3 separate regions of the Homo sapiens genome follow, and regions 2 and 3 are each linked to region 1. Evidence: fine-mapped expression QTL. A gene starts in region 1. Each other region holds a variant in brackets. All regions are shown on one strand. Distances are between the middles of the regions. Region 1 holds the start of SDC1 (syndecan 1). Region 2 has its middle 83 kb from the start of SDC1. Region 3 has its middle 66 kb from the start of SDC1.

Region 1 (8,179 bases):
CTAGCATTTTTTGGTTGATAAAGGAAGGGAAATAAATACTTCAGAGAGTCATGCCCAGAGTAAGAATACTCGAGGGTAATAGGGATTCTTAGCTTGATGAAAAAATATGAATACACAGGACACCTCATTCCCAAGGGATTTCAGGAATCCAAAATTCTGCTGCAACAGAAAAGATTCCTCTAAAAAACTGCAGAAGTCAAGCTTTTCATTAATTCTTTCCAGGCTCTCTCCTTTCTTACTGTCTCCCTACCAATGTGTGTTAATGAGGTTTTACTGGAACCCATCATGAGCCACAGGTAGAGACTTAAACCGCTCCACCCTCCCTGTAGAGCTGAAGCCAGGGATGACATCACTTCTAGAAGGCTCTGAGCCTGAGCGGAGGCAGCTAGTGCCTCCCCCCATACCCTCTCTGCCAGGCTGTGGGAAAATGTCTCTACTAGCCCCCATAATTAGGGCAAAAGGGATTTTATGCCTTTCAAGAAAGAGAAGAGAGAAAGAATGAAAAATAGCAAATAACTATTCCAGAACAAGCCATTTTTCTTACATGGCAGAAACAAAAGACCACAGTAAACACACACACACACACACACACAGAGAGAAAGAGAGAGAGAAACCTTTTTAGACAAACCTGTTTTAGTCTCTTGGGAGTGGTTTTGAGCAACCTCCTCTCCTAGCAGCCTCCCCTCACCCATTCAGTCACTCCTTGCTTCCCTGGTCCCCAGGGGGTTTCTGACCTGCTTCCCACTGGGGCCAGAGTGAACTTTCAGAGAGGGTCAGATCTCTGCCACTTGCAAATACCTTCTCCCATCTTAAAGCAAATCCCAGCTGCCTGATTTCTTTTAGGAAAGGGGTATCAGAGCTTTGGGAAGGCAGTGCATGCCCCCACCTTTAACCTAACATGGACATTCACTGTAAGAGGAAGAGGGCAGAACTGGGAAAGAGAAAACAAACTAATCTTTGTAAGATCAGAAAAAGCAAAAAGAACACCTAAGCTTCAAGCCAGAGTCTGACCCCAAAGCTCAGGTGGGGCTTTCAGGCTCAGCTCAAGCACCTCCTCCAGGAAGCCTTCCCTCCCTGCAGCTCCAGGGAGTCTCCCTCCTTTCCCCTTTTGAGACTCTCCTGCCTCCTGGGCCCTATGTCCAAGTTTCTGGGCAAGAAATAATGCCTCACACTGCAGCATCTGCCCCAGCCCACAGAAAACTCCAGGAAAGGCAGTTCACGGGGAAGCCCAAACTCCACCTGCCTCCCCAGCATTAACGGGTGCGGTGGGATCCCAGGGCTCTGGAATGTCTGCTTTACCCCAGGCAGGCAAGGGAACCAGCAGCCCTCCTAAATCCAGCCGGAAATAGGTGGAGGACCCAACTTCAGCCGCCCCTGCTGAGGCCCCATCATGTGCGAGAATGGGGCAGTGAGGTGATGCCCAGCGGTCCAGGGAGGTAAGGCACCCAGCTCCATTCTCTTCTCCAAACTCGGAGCGAAGACTCCAAGCACAGTCTCAGTTCCACAGAAACCACCACCCTAGAGAGCAGCTTCTTGGACCTGAAAGCCAGGAGTGCATGAGACCCAGCTCGGAAATCATGGCCCTCCCCGTGCTCCCAGATACCCCTCACAGTCCAGCCCATTCACAGTTCAATAGGCACAGGGACCTCTCCTGGACCGGAAAATGTCTGGAAGCACGAGTCACCTGGGAAGCAGGGAGGGCGCTTTACACATCGGTCTCAGAAACGACTGTCCCTACCTCATCTCCCATGAGACAGACTCTGTAAAGAAAAAAAAAACCAAAGCGCTCAATAACTGGCAGCTACTACACGAGGCAACGCTTACGGAGGGTCAGCGCTGCTGAGACTTGTCCAGATGCCACATTAGCAGTGGAGAACCCGAGTGCCCACCCCGCCCCCGCCCCTTCCCTGCCCACGTGCCTCCCTTTGCCAGAGCTGGGGAAGTCGAACTGTCCAGATGTAGTGGCGAGACACCGCCACTTCCGGAAGGGGAAGCGCCCCTGGCTCCGCACCTCCCCTCTGCATCCCTGGGGATGGCCGAGCCGGCCCGCAGGAGGGACCCCGGGACGCCAGCACCGGGCGCGGGGGCTGGGGAGGCGAACTCGGGCGGCAGACTCGGGCACCGGGCGGCCCGCGCTGACACCTGGCTGCGGCCCAGGTCCCAGCCCCCGTCAAGGCCGGCGTTACGGGGCTGTTCCCAGGAAAGGGTTACAGGGGCCGAGAACAAAGCGCCCCCATTGGGGAAGGCGGGCTAGCGGCCGGTGGCCGGGGCGGGAGAGCCACTTTCTGGGGACCCTCAGGCTGCTCTTTGTCGGCCACGTCCCTCTTTAGTGGAGCGTCAGCCCCGCTGAAGGTGGATGCTGCATCCCACCCAAAGGCCTCTTACAGCCCCGAGCTCCACATCTGCCCCTCTTTTCTCCCAGCTGCACTGGGCGGGCCAAGGGACCCGCCTTCCCTCCGCGCGGCTTCAGCACAAAGCCGAGCCGGGGAGCGGGAGGCCATTCCCGGGTCCCCTCGCGTGGAAGGCGCCTGCGCCTCGGCCGTGCCCGGCACGGGAACGCGCCCTCCGGGGCCAGCTCAACTTCAGCAGCCCAGAAGTTGGGCTCCTCCGGGTCTCCAGCGTTCCGAGGCCAACTTCCCGGAACCTCCCGCTGCCGGGCCGGCTCAGCTCACCTCGAGCCGCCCACGGCAAGCCCGAGGGCCCTGCAGACGCTCGCCCGCGCCCCCCACGCAGCCCTGGCCCGGCTCCCCGGGCCAACGCGGCCGCCTCCCGCTCCCGCGCCGGCCGCGCTGCGCCCAAACTTGCCCTGGCGCAAGGGGCGGGGCGCCCGGGCTCGGCGGCGCTGGGGCGCAAGCCCGCGGGTCTGGTTTGAATTAGGGTCTGCAGGGGGGGCGTTGTGGCCGCGGTCACTGCATCCCCCCGGGTCACCGACGGGGGCCCGGCCGCCGCGGTGGCCGGGGCGAGGAGGGTGGGAACGGGCGACCCCGGGCGCCGCTGTGGGCTGGCGGGCTCCGACAGATGTGGAGACGTTTTACATAATTGAGCGCGGGGCCCCGGCCCCCCACCCTCCCCAGCGCGGGACCGGTGCGGCACCCACCGACAGCGGAGGAAATTGGGGCTGGAGCCCTGGTCTCGGGGCTCACCGTCCCGGGACCCGCTGGGCTAGCGCGGGAAGAAGGGAAGTCTTCGCTCCCCCTCCCCCTCCACGTGCACCCGCCGGCATCCGCGGGTGACCAGTCCCGGCTTCCCGCCGCCTCCCCGCCTGGCCGCCGGCCGCACTCACCGGCAGGGCCGGCTGCAGGCTCAGCGCCAGCGCGCACAGCCAGAGCCAGAGCGCCGCGCGCCTCATGCTGCCCGGACCGGCGGCGGGAGAGCGGCAGGCTGCGCGGGTCGCGGCTGCGGGCCGGCTTCGCGGGTTCCGCTGCTCGATGCTCTCTTGGGCGCCTGCCCAGCGCGCCGCTGTCCCAGGCGAGGGCTGCAGGGTCCGCCGGCTGGAGTCCGCTCTCTACTGCCGGATTCCTCTCCGCTCGGCTCGGATTCGGCCCGCACCTCTCCCGCCGAGCTCCGCCTTATAATAAACCCACAGGCCCTTCCTTAGCCGTTGCAAAAACTGGCCCCCCACCCCCAGCTCCGCCAGGTCTCCCGGCCAGCCCCAGTCCACACCCCCCAGGACCCCGCCCCCCAGCCACCCCTCCCGGCCCCTTCGGAACGCCCCACCCCCGGCCCGCTCCTAAGGTTCTTGCCTGCTTGGCTCCCGCTCCTCCGGTGGCCGAACGTCGCTTTCGGGAGCTGTGGTCCCCGCAAGCCGCGGTTCCCGGCCTTTCAGCTCGGCTGCTCCCTGGGTGGTGGGGCCGAGGCGCACCCCCTTCTGCCCGGGCCCGGAGTGCGGAGGCGCAGCCCGGGAGAGGGGCTGAAGGGGGGCAGGCAGTCCTCGGGCGCGAGTGTGCAGCGCCCTCTGGGCGTGGACGCGGAGCGCGCTCCAGGTGCGCAGGACTCCTAGCTCTCTTGGGGAACGCTTTCTGGGGCAGGGCGGGGACCCGGGGGCGATGGGGCCTTCAACCGACGGGCAAACACACACAGACACACCCCGGCTGTCCTCCAGCTGCGATGCGGCTCGCTGCGCCCCGCCGGCCCAGATTCTCCCGTACGCTCGCGTTCTTCCTGCACTCCACAAAGTGCTGGAGACTTGGGGCCTTAGTTTAAACAGCTGCACCCGCACGGAAGGGCTGCAAGAAAAAGGGGGACGGGGGCGGAGTTCGCAGCGTTTTTCTGTGGAAGACAACGCCCTCTCTCTTCATCTGAGCTAAAAGGAAAAATAAGTAACTTCTTTGTTCCCCGGTGACCTCGGGCACGCGGATCTGAGGAGCACCGTGCAGTTGCTGCTCCTTCGAGATCCCCTGCGAGGCCCTGGGCCTCAGTTCAAAAAGCTGTGGAAGGCCTGCGGGTGTAGGGGAAACGGCCGAGAGAGCAAAGGGGAAGAACCGGACGGGCCCTGCCCACATCTGGCAGGCAGGAGAGATGGTGCCAAACGACCTTCGCACCTGGGCCCTGAGACCAAAGATGGCGTCGTCCTCCCCTGTCTTCCCTAGGCGGAAGGCAAGAACTTGGGTCGGCCTGAGCTGGGGACCAAGAAAATATCGGGAAGTGTCCAGTGTTCCTCTTTAAAAGAATTAAACCTTCCTGGGCCACGCAGGGACTGACCGTGGGACCCTGGACTCTCCTCCACCTTCCACCGTGGAGCAGGCTCTGGAGCCGAGCAGCCTCCTGCGTCCCCATCTCATCCCCCCACTCCTCCTCACAGCACTAAAAGATGATGGCCTGCTTGTACCCCTGCTCCTGAGCACCTGTTTGACCTCAAAGAGCTCTCGCTTTTGGGGTGTCCGTCTCCCCAAGTCTGTCTAGGGGGCAGGAAGACCTTCATCAGGGTTCTTGGGGGCCGATGTGGGCTCGCTGAGTGCCTGAGTGATGGATGGTCTCACAGCACGGCACCACGGAGGTCCAGCCGAGCTCGAGGAGTCCCTGTGGATTAAAAATGCCCTTTTCGAAGGTTCTACCTCTACCAGAGGGTGGCTCCACAGATCCCTTCAACCCAGTATGGTGGAAAAATAGGAATTTTGGAATCTTACCTTTCTCTACTGCTCACAACAGAGGAAACTGGGGTCAGGGAGGATTTGATGGAGTCTTTTCATTTTTTAAAAGTCACTCACGGCCAAGCGCGATGGCTCACGCCTGTAACCCCAGCACTTTGGGAGGCCGAGGCGGGCAGATCACCTGAGGTCAGGAGTTCTCGACCAGCCTGGCTAACACGGTGAATCCCCATCTCTACTAAAAATACAAAAATTAGCCGGATATGGTGGCAGGTGCCTATAATCCCAGCTACTCGGGAGGCTGAGGCAGGGAGAATCGCCTCGACCTCTCGGGTTCAAACAATTCTCCCGCCTCAGCCTCCTAAATAGCTGGGATTACAGTCGCACGCCACCACAGGCCGGCTAATTTTTTATTTATTTATTTATTTTGTATTTTTAGTAGAGACAAGGTTTCACCATATTGGTCAGGCTGGTCTTGAACTCCCAACCTCAGGTGATACACCCGTCTCGGCCTCCCAAAGCGCTGGGATTACAGGCGTGAGCCACCGTGCCTGGCCCTTATACTTGTCTTCTTGAGTGCATGTGTGAGGCTTTCTCTAGAAGTAGAGCTCTGGATTATAGGTATAAACATCTTCAACTTTCTCAGGAATTGTTGTAAGCAATTGCTCTAAGCAAATTGCTCTCCAAAGGGCTTATAGTAATTTACACTCCCAACAGCAGTTATGAGCATTTCCATTTTTCTACATCCTCCTATGACTTGGTGTTGGGCCTTTTATATTTTGCCAGCTGATGCAAGTAAAATTATATCTTATTGCTGTTTGAGTCTGACCATCCTTCCCATTAGGAAATGTTTTGCTGAAGCCTTTAGTTGCCGACTGGTTGGGCAGACACTTCTGTTTACTTATCACATCTGTTTTCCTCTTTCTCAGTAAGAGATTCCTTAAATTTCAATTGGGCTTATGGCTATTTAAAATAAAGATTACCTTTCCCTGCCTCTCTTACAGCCACGCGTAGCCACATGATTAGGGTCTTGCCAGTGGCACATGAGCAGAAGTGGTACATGCACTTTCAGAAAGGTGTCAAGCATGCTCTCCTTCCCTTTTCTGTTTTCTCCTGGGCGGAATACAGATCTGATGGCTGCCTCTGAAGCAGCCTTCTTGGACCATGAAGTGAACATGGGAACAGAGGCCATCCACAGCAGAGGAACAAGTTAAAGGAAGCATGGGTCCCTGCCCCATGGAGTATAGCGTCATCCCTGGACTGCCCACGCAGACTTATACATGATGGGAAAATGTCTCTTTTTGTTTGTTTAGGACACTGTTTCTCTGAATTTTCTCTCACTTGCCAGCAATTCTAATCCTAAAAATACACTGATGAATTCATTCTTCTGTATAAGACTAAGTGAATCATCTCAGAAGAGTATGGGGAGGACAACTGGAAAAAGGAAGAAGAGGTGCCTCAGGAGGACGGTGAGAGGAATGGCTTTGAAGATGCTGCTACAAAGAGCCTCTAGGAGGCAGCCCAGCCAGTTTCCCAGCCCCAGACTGTATGTTAAGTTTGGGGACAATTCCTGCCCAAAAAAGAGGTGTAGGCTAGAAGGAGCCATGTTGGAGAGGTTTTTCAGAGAACTGTCTGAAGGCCACACTGGCGTATGTCTCCTCTAATGCACCGTAGGATTGGCTCTCACTGGGTCCCAGTGCAGGGGCATGGCCCTGAGTGCCATCGGGGGACTCCAGAGGAAGCCCCTCACCCACCACGGCTGCGGAGCTGTCCTTGGGTCTGTTGTGAGACATGAAGACCTAGAAGCAGTGGAAAGTTTTGGTTTCGTCTAAGGAACGAATATGTTCATCCTTTTTTTTTTTTTTTTGAGACGGACTCTCGCTGTGTCCCCCAGGCTGGAGAGCAATGGCATGATCTCGGCTCACTGCAACCTCCGCCTCCTGGCTTCAAGTGACTCTCCTGCCTCAGCCTCTCAAGTAGCTGGGATTACAGGCACCCGCCACGATGCCTGGCTAACTTCTGTATTTTTAGTAGAGATGGGTTTCACCATGTTGGTCAGGCTGGTCCCGAACTCCTGACCTCAGGAGATCCACCCACCTCGGCCTCCAAAAGTGCTGGGATTACAGGCGTGAGCCACTGTGCCTGGCCATATGTTCATTCTTAGATATTGAGAAATATGTAACCAAGTGTGTCTGCACTTTCGTGCTTTGGCAGCTCCAAATCATCTGGGGATTCAGTGTGCAGCAAGTGGATTGGACTTTATGTCCTGCTTCTCTGCTCTCAACCTCAAACCTGCCTTGCCCCTGTGCTGACTGTCCCTTTCTAACTTATAATTTCCCTTGCCTTCTAAGTTGCCTCTAATATTTGATAGCAGGAAAGAGAGAGAATAATACACCTTTTGTAGATATCATTGGAATTTACACATCCAAATCAGAGTATCTACTTCCCCAAAGCGATCCCCGTAAGGGACCACTTTTATCACCTCATGGTGCCCATCATCCTAGGGAGGCCTAGGAACCCTTTGTCTATGGGAATAACTTTTTTGTTTTGGAGGAGGAGAGTGGAGTATAGTTCATTTATTTGATAAATATGTCTAGAGATGGAGCATTACCCAGTTCCAGGAAGCATGATTCAGTGTCTTCCATGAAAATGGTATCCTGGCTGGGTGCGGTGGCTCATGCATATAATCCCAGCACTTTGGGAAGCCAAAGTGGATGGATCACTTGAGGCCAGGAGTTCGAGACCAGCCTGGCTAACATGGTGAAACCCCATCTCTACTAAAAGTACAATAATTAGCCTGGTGTGGTGGCACATGTCCATAATCCCAGCTACTCGGGAGGCTGAGGCACAAGAATCCCTTGAACCTGGGAGACAGAGGTTGCAGTTAGCCAAGATTGTGCTACTGCACTCGAGAGAAAGAGAGAAAGAGACAGAGAGAGAAAGAAAGAAGAAAGGAAGGAAGGAAGGAAGGGAAGGAAAGAGAGAACGAGGGAAGGAAGGAAGAAAGGAAGGAAAAGAGAGAAAGGAAAAAGGAAGAGAAAGAAAAAAGGAAGGAAAGGAAGGAAAGAAAGAAAAAAGAAGGAAGGGAGGGA
Region 2 (8,179 bases), 84 kb before region 1:
TCCAGTTCCCATAGTGCTGGGCCTTGTAACTGTCACTGTCCTGTGTATGGGGTCAGGCTCTGGCCTCCCTCCCTCGCAACCCCTTCGGGGCAGGGTGAGAGTAAACAGGTCCCCTAGGTGTGGGACAGACGCCCGCTGCCCTCCTCCTGCCTTATTCATTCTCTCCAAAAACATTAATCACTGGTGGATGGACAAACTGTAGGGCACCCGTATGATGGAATGACCCCAGCAATAAGGAAGAACAAAATAGTAATACAATGAATGACATGGATGACTCTCAAGGCACTGCGCTGAAGTTCAGCAGTTAAATGAAAGCCGCCTAACTCAAAAGGCTGCAGACTCCGCCGCTCCCTGCGTCTGAACTCCAGGGAGGGCCACGCTGCAGCCAGAAAGCAGGTCAGGGCTTGCCTGAGGTGGGATGTGGGAGCGGGGATTGATTGCAATGGGGAATGAGGGAATTTTATGGGGGGATAAAAAAAATCAATGTTTCATTTGATGGTAGGTAGGTGGCTATTTCCATTTGGCAGAGCTTATCAAACTGTATGCGTAAAACAAGCAAATTCTACAGTATGCAAACTACACCATAACGAAGCTGGCAGAGTAAAGACCTTCCAGTTTGGAAACTATGATCTGGGAAGTGACCCATATTGCCTGGCCAGATACACGAGGGAAGAGTCATCTCCCTAGGAAACGCTTAAGAAAGGCTCAGTCCTTAAAAGAAATAAGAAACTGAGTGACCAGAAAAAATGAGGGAGAATTTGAAGAAATACAGTACCAGGGCATCATAGAAGAGCTGGCTTTAAATAGACTACAGATAGTGCACTCAAGTCTTAGTGCATTTGTACGCTGCCTGAATTACCTGACCTTGGTCCCTTATCTGATATCCTCATCCCCCCGGGCTCTACCTGAAAAAAAAGCTCACACGCATCTTTCATAAATAATAAGAAGCTATCCTTTAATGAGATGATATTTTATCTCTCCTGGCCCAGGACGGGGAAGGCGCCCGGCCCCTCTTGAGTCACCAGGCTCTTATGCAGTGGAGTTTCTCTCCTCTGCTTGCTTCCAGAGCCTTCTGCAGGCTACCAAGACAAAGCTTTCTCCCATTCCTCTGGGCCCGGTCCTTCTGCTCTCTGCTGCTGCCCTCTCTGTCCCCATTCCTCCTCTGCCTCTGGAATGATAGCATCTCCCAGTGGCTTTCATGTTGGAGTGCTGGCTCCTTAACTTAAGGTCAGCTTCTGAGGGCAGAAGGCTTGTCCCATTTTCTCTCCTTCCCTCTGCCCTCTCCTTTGGAATAAACGCACACATTCACCAATGCAGCCATTGACTGTGTGGCTCGCCCACACTGTTCAGGAGAGAGGCCCAGCTCCATCTAGCTTGAGCCCAAAGGAAATTTATTGGGCCACATTCCTGAGAAGTCCAGGACGTGTCAGCTAGGTTGAGACACAGCTGGATTCAGGATTGACAATCTCTTTTCCTGTCTCACTCTCTGTCTGCCTCTGTCTCAATGTCTTCTTCCCTTCCTCTCCTCCCTTCCCCTTCTTCTCCCTAATATCTTTCTCTCTCTAAGTAAGTATCCCCTGAGTATACTTCCTCACTCCTCCTTAAGCCCGAAAACAAAAGAACAAGACACAATAAATCCCTCATGTAAATGGTCATCCCTGACCTGGGGAAGTCCAAGATATCAAAAGCACAGCCTATTATTTTATCTATTCTTTCTAGTTGTGTATATAGCTGACTTTTCTGCTAGACTTTCCTTGTGTCCTCAAGGTGCCTGGCACAGGCCCAGGTACATGGCAGCCCCCAGCCCCACCCCAGATAGGATGTGACACTTGGTTGGGGTGAGGTCAGAGTGGGAAAGGGAAGAATCAGGGTCGGGGATGGGTCAAGGCTGGGGAGCGGCTGAGGGGAGGATCCTTTTGAGCTGTTCATTCCCTCCTGGTATTTTTGCCCATGAGGCCCTGCAGAGTAGGAACAAACTCCGCACATGCCTGTCTTCCTCCCAGAGCCCTCCACCCCCAATAAGCATCAGCCTGGGGGGCTGGGGCTGCGGGCTGAGGCCTGGGACAGAGTCCTGGTCAGCATCAGCCTAGCTGATGCCAATTAAGACCCAGGAATCCCCTGCCCCTACCCCTGGGCTCAGATCAAAAGACCTTGGCCCTCAGATGAGGGGCTCCTGACCATAAATCTGAAGGAGCACGGCCCTCCAGCTAATGAGCTGTCCTGGCTCAGACTAGAGCAGGGATGCCAGATCCTGTTTCATTCCAGGGTGCAGCCAGCCCAGAGTGAAGGGCCGCGGGAGGCCCTAGACCCCAGAGTGCCCATCCCCCCACAGCACCCGGCTTTGCAGGGACAGGCCCCGCTCTGCTCATAATCCCTGGGGCAATGTCCTGGAGGGTACATGAGAATGCACACTGTTCCCTGGGCTCCTGCCCTGCCGGGCCCCAAGATGGCTCCCTGTGCCCACCGTTTAGCCCCACAGGAATTTTAACCGCTAACATCTGGGTTCAGGAGACTCCGGAAGAGCAAACGTCTTCACCTCCTTTGATTCCCTTCACACAGAGGGCTTTTTCAATTTTAATTTGAGGTGACCTCTGACCTGAGTTCCCATTCTCATAGATTCCAGATATTTCCTGTGCCCTCAAATAACCTCCAAGCCTGCCCCCACCTGATCAGAGCCCCTGCGGAGGGGGCATGGCCTTCACCCACCCATGGCCCAGGCTAGGCTGGGAGTCCCCCTGGACTCCGGCCCCCTCCCCATATCCCACTCTGTTCCCCCAAAGATGCCTGCACAGCCACCCACCCACCAGTATCTCTCCAGGGCTCTCAGCTCCAGTATCTCAGCTGGGCCCAGCTGAGCCTGCTCTCAGGACACGAGGGATGGCAGACACCCCGGTGCCAACCTCTCTGGCTGTCATGTTTTTTAATGACAACAATCATAGAAACATCGGTGGAGCCTCTTCTCTGTGTCAGGTGACCCAGTAGCTCAAGAATAATTGCTCCTAATTTACAGATGAGGAAGCCGGCCCTGGAGAAGAAGAGGGACTTCGTGTACACACAGCTAGCTGTGGCCAAGCCAGACCATAACTGAGGTGTGTCAGCCCGGAGCCCGGTGCCCTCCAGGAAGAGGGGTCAGCAAAGGGATGCTGGCATTGGTGCATCTCCCCTGCTTTGTGAGTCCTGGTTTGGGCTGCCCATCTCAGCGTTGTGACCATCAGCACAAAGCACCAAGGGTCTTGGCAAAAGGCAGAGATGACAGAGAAGTGAGAAGCAGGCATGGGGGTGGGAAGGGCTGGTCAGACCTCAGCTCCGCCCCTGTCTCTTTCCAAAGTAGCTTTTGGATTGAGGTGGATAGTTCCCTCAGTTCCCATGAGGAGTCCAGCACGGTGCTAAGCTGGGCTGTGCAGGGGGCTACAAGAGCAGGCAAGTCCCAGTCCCTGTCTCAGAGGGGCTGAGAGACAAGCAGAGGTACAGGGACATGAGCAAGGCAGCCCCAGGACCAAAGTCAGGCCGAGGGGGTCAGGCTGGGTAGGCTGCTTGCAGGTAGGGAATTTGCTGCAGGTCTGGGTTACAGAGAGGCCCAAGTCCCATGCCCACATGGTGCTAGGTCAGGGCCCTGGCAGCCATCCCTCTAGGATGGCCACTCCCAACAAGGGCCTATGGCTCTCCAGAGCCCAGAACCTGAACACATCCAGGCCAGAGCCACGGGATGATGCACTGGCCCCTGCCCCATGGGTAAGAGGCTGAATGGCACATTAGGCAACCTCTCTGGCTCCAAACCCCAGCTGGCTGCCAGCCTCAGCCTCCTAGTCGATGGTTTGACCACATGACTCCCCATTAAAGCCTTTCCCTGGCTCTCCATCCTGCCCCTCGTCATGCCCGGTGACTCACGCTGCTTTTCCAGG[C/T]CCAGCTCACCACGGCTGACATCACCTTCAGCTCCACCCCTTTCCCAGCAAACCCTGATGAGCCCTCTCTTTCCTCTGACCCATTGTCCTCCTCGGAATCAAGAATGCTAGAGCCAAAAGCTATCTCAGGGAACATCTGGAGCAGCCTCACTTACAGCTGGGGAAACTGAGACCTGAGAGATGCCCCGCTGGCGTTTGTTCTAGTTCAGAGGCTGTGATTCATTTAGAACTTTAATGAAAGGATTTAGGGCTCAGTTAGGATCTTAGGGCAAATCATCGCTGCTCTGCCAGTAACTAAGCCCTTACCCTTACGCCTGCCCAGCAGGGTCCTGGAAATCAATCTCCAGATTCCGCCGGGTCCAGGGCTGCCCCATAGGTGCTGAGGCACTGGAGACAACAGGAGGTCTGGGATGGCCCCCAGCCCCTCCCTCTACCCAAATCGGGGCATGGCTAATTCTTTCTCTAAGAGATCCATTGCTTTAAAGTCCAGAGTAGAAGGGAAGAAACAGGTGTCAATTTCTGCCAGGAAAATGAGATCGAGCTGCAACCTCAGAGAAGCCTGGAGGGGTACTGTTAACGGGAACCCTCTGAGGCTCTGGGGCTGAAAAGAAAATCAAGGAGGAACAAGCAATCAAGGTTTTCATGGAAGCCTTGGGCTTCAGAAATAAGGCATCCCTGGAACGTGGTTTCTAAAGCATCACCTGAGAACTTGGGAGAAATAAAAAATGCAAATCCTCAGGCCCCACCTGAGACCTACCAAATCACACACTTTGTTTTGGGATCCCTCAAGCCCTCCAGATGATTCTGATGCATGCTCAAATTTGAACACCACTGCCATAAAGGACAACCAAAGCAGTAAGCAGGTCTCATAGCTGGTCAGCCCTGTTGGTCCTGGCCTGTGGTGGGTTCGCTGAGGCTCCACAGCCCGCTCTGCTTACCCATGTTATGGACCCCTCCCAGCCAAAACAGGCAGGATTTCTGCAGGCAGCTTATTCCAGAAGGGCTTGGAATGAGCCTTGTGGCCCAAGATGTGCTCTGGGAACATGGAGAGCCTCAAAGTCACCCACCCCTTCCATTTGCCTCTGCCCATACAAAAGGAATTCTGCCTCAGTTTCCCTGCTTTTCATTCCAACCCACCACTGGCCTTAGAACTCTGCCCTGGACCTCAGCCTGCTTCCCTGGGCACTGTTACCATGCCATGCATGGTGGCTGGCCTCCTCACCGAGGTCTCATCCTGCTCCTGTACCCCAGCTGCTGACTGAGGTGATTTGCAGACTGACAACACATTTATTACTGTGCTGTGGCTGCCCTGGGCCCCCAGGTACATGTGTGTGGATTGTCTACTGAACAAGGGCAGATGGCCAAGGAAGCAAGTGGAGGAATGAAATCCAGCTCACTTTCCACTCACCCACATCCCCTAGGGCGAGGTGGCACTAATTTGCAGGTATGCATTAGAGGGTCTAGTGCTTGAATGTCACACTCCCTTTCCCGAAGCTCCTGTTTCTGAGGTGACCCTCCCCTCCCCCTGCCTTCCCATTTCTACACCAGCCAGACCTCCCTATCTCTTCATGTCTACACCAACTGGACACCCACCCTTTCAAACGGGCCATGCCCTCCTTATCTTCTCTCTTAGGGGTCTCTTGGCTGGCTCAGTTGTCCCACCATTTCTCTCCTTATTCCTCATCCTCACAGACTTTCCCGTCATGTTGATGATGACATAATAACCAGCAGACAAAACATCTTTGTTGATAGAAGTTTGAGGTCATTTCATTACAGCATCTCCTAAGACATTCCATTCAGGGACGTGCCTGCCAGGCTGCTGGAAATGCCTGCCTTTTATGGCCTGCTTGGTTTGGTCACTTGTAACTTCTGCACATGATAGGCCCTGGGCTCCCTCTACCCTAGGGCAACCCCATAGAGACCTGAAAATCCTGTTCACGACTTGCCCCACCCGAATCTTGTCTTCCCAGCCCCTTGAATGAGTCCATGTGTGGCTTGGGCTCTCTCATCACCGCAGGTTAAACTGCCATGTAATTGATTTTTTTTCCAGGCAATTGAACACATATCAGTAGGCACCTAACTTTTCTCTTTTAACCACTTGGATTAAGAAAAATCTTTCCAAAACATAATATATTCTTCTCTACCTCTTGGAATAAATGAAAGCAGACATAATGTGCTTTTTCTTGGGGCCTCTACATAATAATAGTTTTTTTGAGCTACTGTAAAGTGTTTTTAATAACTCAAATCACTTCATAATCACCATGGGGAGAAAACAGAAAATACAGATATATAGAAAGGAAAAAGAAGGGCATCCCTTGATATCTTACCAGCTGGAGGCAATGACTAATAACTTTTTGTTGTATAACTTTCTGGGCTTTTTCCTAAGCAAGCACAGTTCCCCAGTTTGGGGTGCAAATGTAATCCCTCTTATTTATTCAATAATTGCTTGAGCTCCCATACGCCCATATTAACAGGAAGTCATGCCTCTTTACCCCTTCTTACCCCTTATTCCTCACCCACTCCCCCAAGGAAATTGGGGCCAAACTTGGTCCTACAGGTAATTCTGATTGCAAATGGCAATCAGAGAGAAACTGGAGAGTCAGGAGGTCCTGATTTCCATTGTTTCTTGCACAGTACCATGTGTCTCTAAAGAAAATGGTCTTGCAAAGTCTGATGAGATCCTGCCTCACTGGTCCTGACCCTTATGTGGTCCACAGAGGTGTGCCAACTTTGGGCTCCAAGGCCACTGCTCTTGTAAGCTCATACTTCCAAGGTTAGCCAGGCTCCCAAATAGCGCACAGCCCTGGTAGAGCTGAGCCCAGGAGGGCTTCTGTCCTCAGCCACACTCCATGCCACAGGAATATGGAGGCCCTGGGGTTGAGCCTGGTCACCAACTCTGACCCCCTTTCTTCCTGGTGCCATTCCCTTGAGGGGCTGTGGGGATTCTATTCCTGGGGCACTTCATCTCAAACTTCATCAGGAAAATTCCAACTTTAACACGGCAAACGTCTTTGTCTTCATCTCTTTCTTCCCAGATGTTCCTTGGCCCCAAGCAAATTATCTCCCTGCTCTTCCATGTAGGGACTAGAGGGTCCTGCACTCCTCAGGCCACCCAGGAACCAGTTCCCCCTTGCCCCACTAGCCTAACATGTGAATAGCCAAGAGGGACCACTCAAAGGACAGTTTCCTGAACAAAGAAGACCTGTTCTTAACCAGCTGGATAAAGAAGGAGCTGATGGCAACTTTTATTAAAAAGAAAGAAAAGTTCCGAACCAGGAAACTTGCCATACACCCATTCGCCAGATGACAACATTGAGATTACTCACTTCTTGAAAGAGCCCAGCCTCTAGCACTGGACATTTATCACAAAGCATTTCCTTCTTGCGTTGGGCATTCCTCTCTTGCTAGGAGGAACTGAGACTTCCCGTCCCCAGTCCCAGCCCTGAGGCCATGCAGCCTAGGGGTGGCTGGATTGAGCACTGCTTACTGGATTCAGGCCAGAGACTGCCACATTTTGTCCTCTGCTGCCTGGGTTAGGGAGACCTCTCCCTGTCAACTCAGGGGCATGGCAGGAGCGGGGCTGGAACAGTCTCTGCAGTCAGTTCCCTCCTGGACCACCGACGCTGGGAATGCAAGGGGTGGGTAGTTTGGTCTGTGCTTATGTGTTGATATTGTGAGATCATTTGAGAGAATTAAATATATTTTCCCAGATGGAAAGAAAAGGAAAAGGAAGGGGATGTTGAGTGTGGGAGCTGTTCATTCTTTCCAGCTTCTCTCCTTTCCCGCCATCCCACCCCACCTGTGGACCTGTGTTTGGCATTAGGGCACTCCTCTGTGCTTTGCTGGATTCTGATAGGGAGCACAGCCTGGTGTGGGGGGTGGGAGGACGGATGGTCTGCATCTTCCCTTCCCCTGCTCCAGTCCTTAGGCCAGTGCTTTCTGCACTGGGGGGTCAGGGGACATTGAAGGTGCCAGTCCAAATGCCAGTCAACACTGTGGGCAGGCCTGGCCAACACTGTCTGTGGATGCCAGACTCTGGGAAGAGAAGCACCCACGCTCAGAGATGGCCCACTCTCACTGGGCTCACAGCCAAACACACCCAGTTTTCTGGCCTCGGGCTGGGTGGGACAAGTGTATATCTCACCTGACAAGCCCTGTGAGCCTGACAAATGGAGGGAAAAAGCCACGACAGCAGCACCTCCCAGTGATCCGGAAGCTGGAGGAGGAGCAAGAGGACACAGGGTCTCTCCAAAAGGCAGAAGTGCGGGGGAGTGGCC
Region 3 (8,179 bases), 66 kb before region 1:
TACAGAAGGACATTCAATATAGCCCAGGACATACCAACATTTAGAGGTTGAGAAGAGCAGGAGGAGCCAGCAGAGGACCTTGAGAAGGGATGGCCAGAGAAGTGGGGTGAAGAGGCTGAAGAGAGTGAAAAATCATAACATCCAAGAAGAAAATTCTTTTTTTTCTTTTTTTTTTGAAACTTAAAAATCCCTCAAACATCGTTTATTATACAAGTTAATCCTGATCCTTGTGATGAGCTTATTGCTAGGATTTCTTTCTCTCTTTCTTCTCTCTCTCTCTCTCTCTCTCTTTCTTTCTTTCTTTTGAAATGGAGTCTCACTCTCTTGCCCAGGCTGGAATGCAATAGCACAATCTTGGCTCGCTGCAACCTCCACCTCCCAGATTCAAGTGATTCTTCCATCTCAGCCTCCCAAGTAGCCAGGATTACAGGCACCCGCCATCAGGCTCAGCTAATTTTTGTAGTTTTGTAGAGACAGGGTTTCACCATGTTGGCCAGGCTGGTCTCGAACTCCTGACCTCAGGTGATCCGCCCACCTCAGCCTCCCAAAGTGCTGGGATTACAGGTGTGCACCACTGTGCCTGGCCTATTGGTAGGATTTCTAGTAGCGAGCACAGGCACCAGAGCTTCCAAACTTTTTGGACTCACAGCGAAGGAGGCCAGCTACCAGCAAGGTCTGGTCATTCTGGATGAGGGTGTCTTTGATATCCTTCTTGGAAGCCTCATCCATATATTTCTGGTAATAGGCCACCAGGGCTTTGGAGATGGACTGATGGACAGCACAAATCTGGGCCACATGACTACCACCCTTCACATGAACACAAATGTTCACACCAGCAAATCGCTCTTTGCCCAGAGCAGAAGTGGTTCCAGCAGCTTGTATTGTAGCATATGCAGCTCGATCATCTCCAGGTGCCACCCATTCACCTTGATGAGGCCATTGCTGTGTTTGCCGGGCGCCACAGCTGTGGCCCTTTTCTTGCATCCAAAGACCTGCGCATACTGCAGTGGGCCCTTGGACAGCATGGCTACAGGCATACATTAGAGATCCTCACTGCACAGAGCTGCAACCAGAAAAGGAAGAAAATTATTTCAAAAAGGAAATACATTTGTGTGTGTTTGCAATCTTCCATGATACTTTTTTAAATGAGGCAGCGGACACCTGTGTCAGTTGCTGCTGAGAGTTGAATTAAGCGAGGCAAGAGAAATGTACATTTGCATTTTGCAGCATAGAGCCCATCTTGACAAGAGCAGTTTCAGTAGAGTGGTGGAGACAGAAGGGAGCTGGAATGGGCGTGAGTGGCTTAACATGATAATAATAGCTGAACTTATATAAAACTTACTATGTGCCAGACACTGATCTAAGTGCTTTACATATATTAATCTGTGCAACAGCCCTTTGAGATAGGTACAATTATTATCCTATTTTACAGATAAGGAATAGATCTTTAAGTAATTTGTCCAAGATCACACACATTAGGAAATGACAAAACTGGAATTTGAACCCAGACAAAACTGGTTGATCTGGCTCCAGGAAATAGAGGCAACCCTTTTGAGAAATCTTGTTATAAATGGTGTATTAATTAAGATAAGGCCAGATGTTGTAACACATAAACCACCAAAATCTATTTAGCTTGACTAAATAGAAGTTTATTTCTTCTCTTTTAAATTCCAATCAGTGATAGGAGTGGGAGAAGTGAGGATAGAGCTCTGCTCCATACAGTTATTCAGGGATCTAAGCACTTACCTTATGGCCTAGACATCTTCTTCAACACACAGCACCCTTAGTTGCCCTAGGTGTCAACATCAACCTGGCAGAAGAGGAAAGAGAATATGGAGGATCGTGTAGAAGAATTTTATGGGCCATACCTGGAAGTTGCGTACACCACTTCTGCCCACATTCTGTTATCCAGACCTCAGTCACATGTTCTCATGAGTATGCAAAAGGAGCCAGGAAGTGTGGTCCTTGGCTGGGCAGCCACTGCCAGCAGCAGCACTACACTGTGCAAAGAGGCCGTGGATTTTTGGTGGACAGTTGTCTGTCTACCCCATTGAGCAAAGACATAGTGAGAAAGGTATGTGTGAAAGGAGATTTGTTTTTGAATATGGGAAATACTGGAGCATGTTTGTGTACTGACAAGAATGACAGAGTAGGGAGGGGGAATCTAATGATGCAGGAGAGAGAGGATAATTGCAGGAGCAAAGTCCTCAGCAAGGTGATAGCAGGTGAAGGGATTGTCCTTTGAAAGGAGCAGGAGGGAGGCTGAGAGGTTGGCAGGGTGAGGGAAAATTGTTGTTGGCACATATTCAAGGAGGATTGGCGATTTCATCGTGGGAGGCACAGTTGTCCCTGGCTGAGGGCTTCTGGGTTTTTTTGGTTGAAGTGTTAAGAAAGGTCATCAGCTGGATGTGACGTGGGGAGAGGATGTGGGGGATGGGAAGAGCGAGAATGTACGAAATAATCATTTTAGACAGAGAAAAGAAACTTAGTAGAGAAACATTTTAGAATTACCCGGCTGTGTTGCATGACCATTTGAGGTTTGTGGTTATGCATATAAAATGAAAATTACCTCCAGAAGTTGTGTGTGTGTGTGTGTGCTTACATTAATGGTGTCTATCATTCTCTGTGTATTATTTAGCAACTTGCTTTGTGTCTTTCCTGTGTGCTGTACGTTCAGTATTCCACAGAATGGATGCACCAGAGTTTATTCAGCCATTCCCCAGTGATGACAGCTAGGTCATTTCCAGTTCTTTACTAGAAAGCTGCAGCAAGGATTCTTTGCCTGCTGCCTCGTGCACACATGACTGTTTCTCCAGAGGTACACCAAGAAGTAGATTTGCTGGATCATAAGGGAAATAGAAGTTTTAATAGATTCTATCAAATTGCCCTCCAAAGTGACTTTACCAATTGATACTCCCATCAGCAGAATATGAGACTACTGCCCACATCTTCATCTGCCCTACATTCAATCAAACTTACTATTTTGCTTGTCTGGTCGAATAAAAAATGTTTTTTCATTATTTTAATTTACATTTCCTTTATTATCAGGGATATTGCAGCTTCCCATAGATTTTTGGCCATTTGAATCTCTCCTCTTGTGATTTTTCCTTTCATATTCTTTTCCTGTTTTCCTAAGCATTGTTTACTTTTTCATATTGACTTATAGCAGATTTTTACATATTTTGAATGTTGTTTGTATATTGTAATTATTACAATTTTTTTAGTTGGTTGCTAGTTTTCAATTTTGTTGATGGTGTCTTTTTTTTTTTTTAAGAGACAGAGTCTCACTCTGTCACCCAGGCTGGAGTACAGTAGTGCAATCACAGCTTACTGTAGTCTCAAACTCCTGGGCTCAAGTGATCCTCCCGCTTCAGCCTCTCAAGTAGCTGAAACCACACATATGCACCACTACACCTGGCTTTTTTTTTTTGTGGAGACAGGGTCTCACTCTATTGACCAGGCTGGTCTCCAACTCCTGGACTCAAGCAATCCTCCCCTCTCAGCTTCCTAAAGTGCTGGGATTACAGGTGTGAACCACTGCACTGGGTCATGTTGATGGTAC[T/C]CTTTGATGTCGTTAAATTTATTCATATCTTCCTTAATGCTTTTATATTAAGTGCCTTATTGCACAAGCTTTCCCTATCACTAATTCATAAAAATAATATCCTATATTTTCTTCTAATTCTTTTGTAGTTTTTTAAATTAAAGTCTTAATTTTGAGATAATTGTAGCTTCACATGCAGTTGTAAGAAGTAATACAGGAAGATCCATGTTCCCTTAATCCGGTTTCCCCCAATGGTAACATCTTGGAATATCACAACTAGGACACTGATATTGGACTCGACGTTGATACAGTCAAGATACAGAATGATTTCCCCACCACAAAGAGCCCTTGTGTTGCCCTTTTAGAACCACACCCACTTCTCTTTCCCCCACTCCTTTGTCCACTGCCATCCCCTCTTTAACTCTGGCAACCACTAGTCTGCTCTCCATTTCTATAATTTTGTCATTTCAAGAATGTTATATAAATAGAATCAACTGTATGGGACCTTTTGAGATTGACTTTTTTTCAGCCAACATAATGCCCTGAAGATTCATTCAGGTGGTTTTGTGTATCGATAGCTTCTTCCCTTTTATTGCTGAGAAGTAATCCATGGTGTGCTTGCACTCCATTTGCTTAACCATTCATTCATTGAAGGATATCTGGGTTGTTTCCAGTTTGCAGATATTTTTGTACAAGTTTTTGTGTGAACATAAGTTTTCATATCCCTGGGATAAACATTGAAAAGTACAATTGTTAAGACTTGTGATAGTTGCACACCTAGTTTTTTAAGAAACTTCCAAATGATTTTCCAGTGGCTATGCCATTTTACATTCCCATCTGCGAAGTATAAGTGATCCAATTTCTTCATATCCTGGTCAGCATTTGATGTTGTCACTATTTTTTATTTTAGCCATTTTGATAGATGTGTGTTGATATCTCATGTGGTTGTCTTGGCACTTTCCTAATGGCTAAGGATGTTGACCATCTTTTCATGTGCTTATAACCAGGAGTACCAGGAGTACACTCTCTTTGGCTAAATGTCTGTTCATGTCTTTTGCCCATTTTTGAATTCGATTCTTTGTTTTTTATTGTTCAGTTTTGAGAGAAATGTATGTATTCTAGGCTCTAGTCCTCTGTGTTTTGCAAATATCTTCTCCCAATCTTTAGATTGTCTTTTTATTCTCTGTACAGGGTCTTTCACAAAGCAAAAGTTTTCAGTTTTGATGAAGCCCAATTTATTGATGTTTCCTTTTATGGATAATACTTTTGGTGTCAAGGCTGAGAACTCTGTCTAGCCCAAAACCACAAAAATGTTTCTCCCATGTATTTTCTTCCTAAAAGTTTTGTAGTTTTAGGTTTCACATTTATGTTTGTGATTCATTTTGAGTTAATTTTTTTATACAGCCTGGAGTCTAGGTCAAGGTTCACTTTTACCTATGGATGTTCAGTGGTTCCAGGACCATTTGTTTACAAGGCTATCCTTCATCCATTGGATTGCGTTTGCATCTTTTTCAAAACTCGGTTGCGCATATCTGTGTAGGTCTATTTCTGGATTTTCCATCCTTTCCCATTGATTTATGCTTCCATCCCTCCACCAATATCACACAGTCCTAATTATCATAGCTATATAACATCTTGGAATTGGGTAGACTAATTCCCACTTAGTTCTTCTTTTTCAAAAAAAGTATGTGTATATATTATTTACTTCATATGCTTTATCACAAAACCACAAAAACAATCTCCTACATTTTATCCTAATTCTTTTGCAGTTTAAAAAGATATATTTAGTTCTTTAAGTAACCTGGAATTTATTATTATGACTGGTGTGAAGTAGAAATTAAACTTGACTTTCATTTTCTGCAGTTGTTTCTCCTAAAATATTTAATTGAATGTTTTGTCACTCATCTGAAATACCAACTGTATCATACACTAAGTTTCTACATATTCGAGGGTCTGTTTGTGCACTCACTATCCTATTACTTTGGTCTATTTGTCTATTTAATCCTATATTATTTTTAATTCTCTAACTTCATAATATGTTTTGTTAAAGTAAATTAAAATGGAGACCAGACCTGAAGAATCCCTACACAGACAAAGGCAGTTAGGATAAGTGACCTTAACCTTGTTTGATTTGTAAACATGAGTGAAACTTAACCTGGGCCATTTCTTATAAATACTTTTTTTTTTTTGAGACAGGGTCTTGCTCTGTTGCCCAGGCTGGAGTATAGTAGTGCCATCTTGGCTCACTGCAGCCTCGATCTCATGGGTTCAAGCAATCATCCTGCCTCAGCCTCCTGAAGTGCTGGGATTACAGGTGTGAGCCACTATACCTGGCCCCAAATGCCTATGTCAAAGAAAAATAGAATTTAAGCTCAACTAATCGGAAGCAGCCAACAAACTTATATAACTGGGAACAGTTTCCAACAGGATAAGCCAAAGAAGGCAAGTGTATAACTACAACCAATCAAATTTTTTTTGCTTTACTTCCCTTTTCATCCTATAAAAGCCTCCCTCTTGTAGTCCCTCAGTGAAGCTTCCCAACCACTTCTGGTTTGGAACCCAATTCATAAATCTCTGTCTACTCAAATAAACTTATTAACATTTTGTTGTGCCTCAATTTACCTTTTTAATACTTTTTTTTTTGACAGAATCTTGCTCTGTCACCCAGGCTGGAGTGCATGGCGGCATCTCGGGTCACTGCAGCCTCCACCTTCTGGGTTTAAGTGATCCTTGTACCTCAGCCTCCTGAGTAGCTGGGATTACAGGTGCACACCACCATGCCCGGCTAATTTTTTGTATTTCTTGTAGAGACAGGGTTTTGCTATGTTGGCCAGGCTGGTCTCAAACTCCTGGCCTCAAGTGATCTGCCCACCTCGGCCTCCCAAAGTGCTGGGATTACAGGTGGGGGCCACCATGCCTGGCCACATTTTTAATAGTTTTGATATCTGGCAGGATAAGTTCCCCTTTACTGTTCTTCCTTTTCAAAAGTCTTTTCTTATGCATTTTTTCCATGTGAATATTAATCATCATCTGTCTATTTTAATGAAGAATTCCAGTGAGATGGTTGTTGGGATTGCGCCAAATTTATAGATAATTTTATAAGGGATATTTTTATAATATTGAAATTTCCCAATGTAGTAGAATATATATCTCCCTTTATTTAGGTCTTTTATGTCCATCATTAAGTTTTACTGTTTTCTTTGTAAGTTTCTTGCATTTCTTTTTAGGACTGGTACTAAATATTTTGTGAATTTTAATTGTGCTGTACAGAGGATTTTGTTAACATATAATATCAAGTTGGTCACTATCATATAGGAACACAGCCTTTCACATAGCTGTTCACATGAGATACTCAGGAACCTTCTGTGGTAAGCAATGTTTGAACTGTCTTGTGGAAGAAGAGACTGAAGCTCAGAGAAGGAAGCCTGGGGCCAAATGCGGGTCCCCCAGGTCCAAGTGCCAGGCACAGAAAGCTTCCACTCCAGGGAAGGCTCTCGAATGTGCAGACAGTGGAGCTGCAGGGTCTCCCTTTGGCTTACAGAGTGTGGACCCAGCAGACAGTTCCTGGCCTCCCAGCGAGGCTCCAAGAAGACCTAACTACAGCCCCATTTCCCCGCTGCTTCATCTTTGTCTGTCACAGGCAAGGTCTGCCTTTCTCTTCAGGGGGACAAGTGCCTGGCTCTGTGACCAAGGCAGAGCCCAACTTGGTAAATGGATGCTATGGTCATTAAAAGATTAGAGGGTCATTAAACTATGGGTTTGGTGATGGGGGTCAGGTGGCTGAGCATTCCCTGAGGACAAGGTGAGAGATTAGTATGGAGGAGACTGGTTAGAACCAAATTCCTGGCTTGGGCAGCAAAGGGGTTCAGGAATGAAGGAGACCAGCCCTCAGGTTCCAGGGTGAATAATGACACCCTCTACAGGGAGGCAGGCCAGAGAGCAGGAATTGAGGGGTCGGGCCAGTGGTTTGGGAGGCACATGAGGTGGGGTGCGGAGTGGGATGGTCTGGGAGCCTGAGGAGCAAGAGAGCTGTAGATCACATCTGTGGGTTAGAAGTGAGCTAGGGGAGTTTATCATGTGTGTGATCCTTGGCTTCTCTGTTTATTTCCTTGCTTATCTCACTCAGGATTCATCATGGTGTCAGTAAAAGACCTAGCCTGTGTGAGGAGGCCAAGCGAGGCAGGATGGGTACCCTGGGGCCAGCATCTTGCAGAGGTGTCAGTGGGAAGCAGGATGAGGGAGTTCCTCAGAAAGAAGGAGACTCACGGCTGGAATCCCACCTACTCTTCTTTGCCTGAAATACTCATTTCGGTTGCACCATGCAGATTCAGGGTTTGGTACTAATGAAGATTATTTAGCTTCTTAGCTTTGTGATCATAGCTATTTTCCCAACTGCAAAATAGGGATAATAATTCTACCAAGTTCCCCAAATTGTAGAATGCTCATCACTGGAGATTTGGGGTGGTATGATAGATTATTTTATATAGTACATGGCCATACCTTTAAACAATGATAAATAACATAGTGAGAAATACATCCCTTTTTTCTTTTCCCCCAAATTTGCCTGATGACATAAGGAGAAAGTCTCCTCCTCAGAATGCCTCAGCCTCAAAAAGGGCATCCGAAAGGCAATACAAT

The links. PIP is the estimated chance that this variant, and not a neighbour inherited with it, causes the effect.
Region 2: its variant is the best candidate, but not a certain one, in a credible set for the expression of SDC1 in tibial artery (GTEx, PIP 0.85).
Region 3: its variant is the best candidate, but not a certain one, in a credible set for the expression of SDC1 in fibroblasts (GTEx, PIP 0.69).

The regions. Positions count from the first base shown.
Region 1 is chr2:20,221,519-20,229,697 of GRCh38, forward strand. It overlaps SDC1 (syndecan 1), which reads right to left and starts at 3,612. Exons shown (of 5, transcript NM_002997.5): 1 at 3,284-3,612. The coding sequence starts at 3,349. RefSeq lists enhancers at 806-1,313, 1,314-1,820, 3,580-4,259, 4,260-4,939 and silencers at 1,979-2,178, 2,589-3,048, 3,069-3,128, 3,169-3,588, 3,649-4,028.
Region 2 is chr2:20,137,738-20,145,916 of GRCh38, forward strand. No RefSeq gene overlaps it. Among named protein-coding and RNA genes, the nearest start is that of SDC1, 83 kb to the right of the region's middle. RefSeq lists enhancers at 1-60, 3,542-4,126, 7,878-8,037. The variant C/T (reference allele first, on the strand shown) is at 3,903.
Region 3 is chr2:20,155,033-20,163,211 of GRCh38, forward strand. It overlaps the pseudogene RPS16P2. Among named protein-coding and RNA genes, the nearest start is that of SDC1, 66 kb to the right of the region's middle. RefSeq lists a silencer at 2,538-2,627. The variant T/C (reference allele first, on the strand shown) is at 3,563.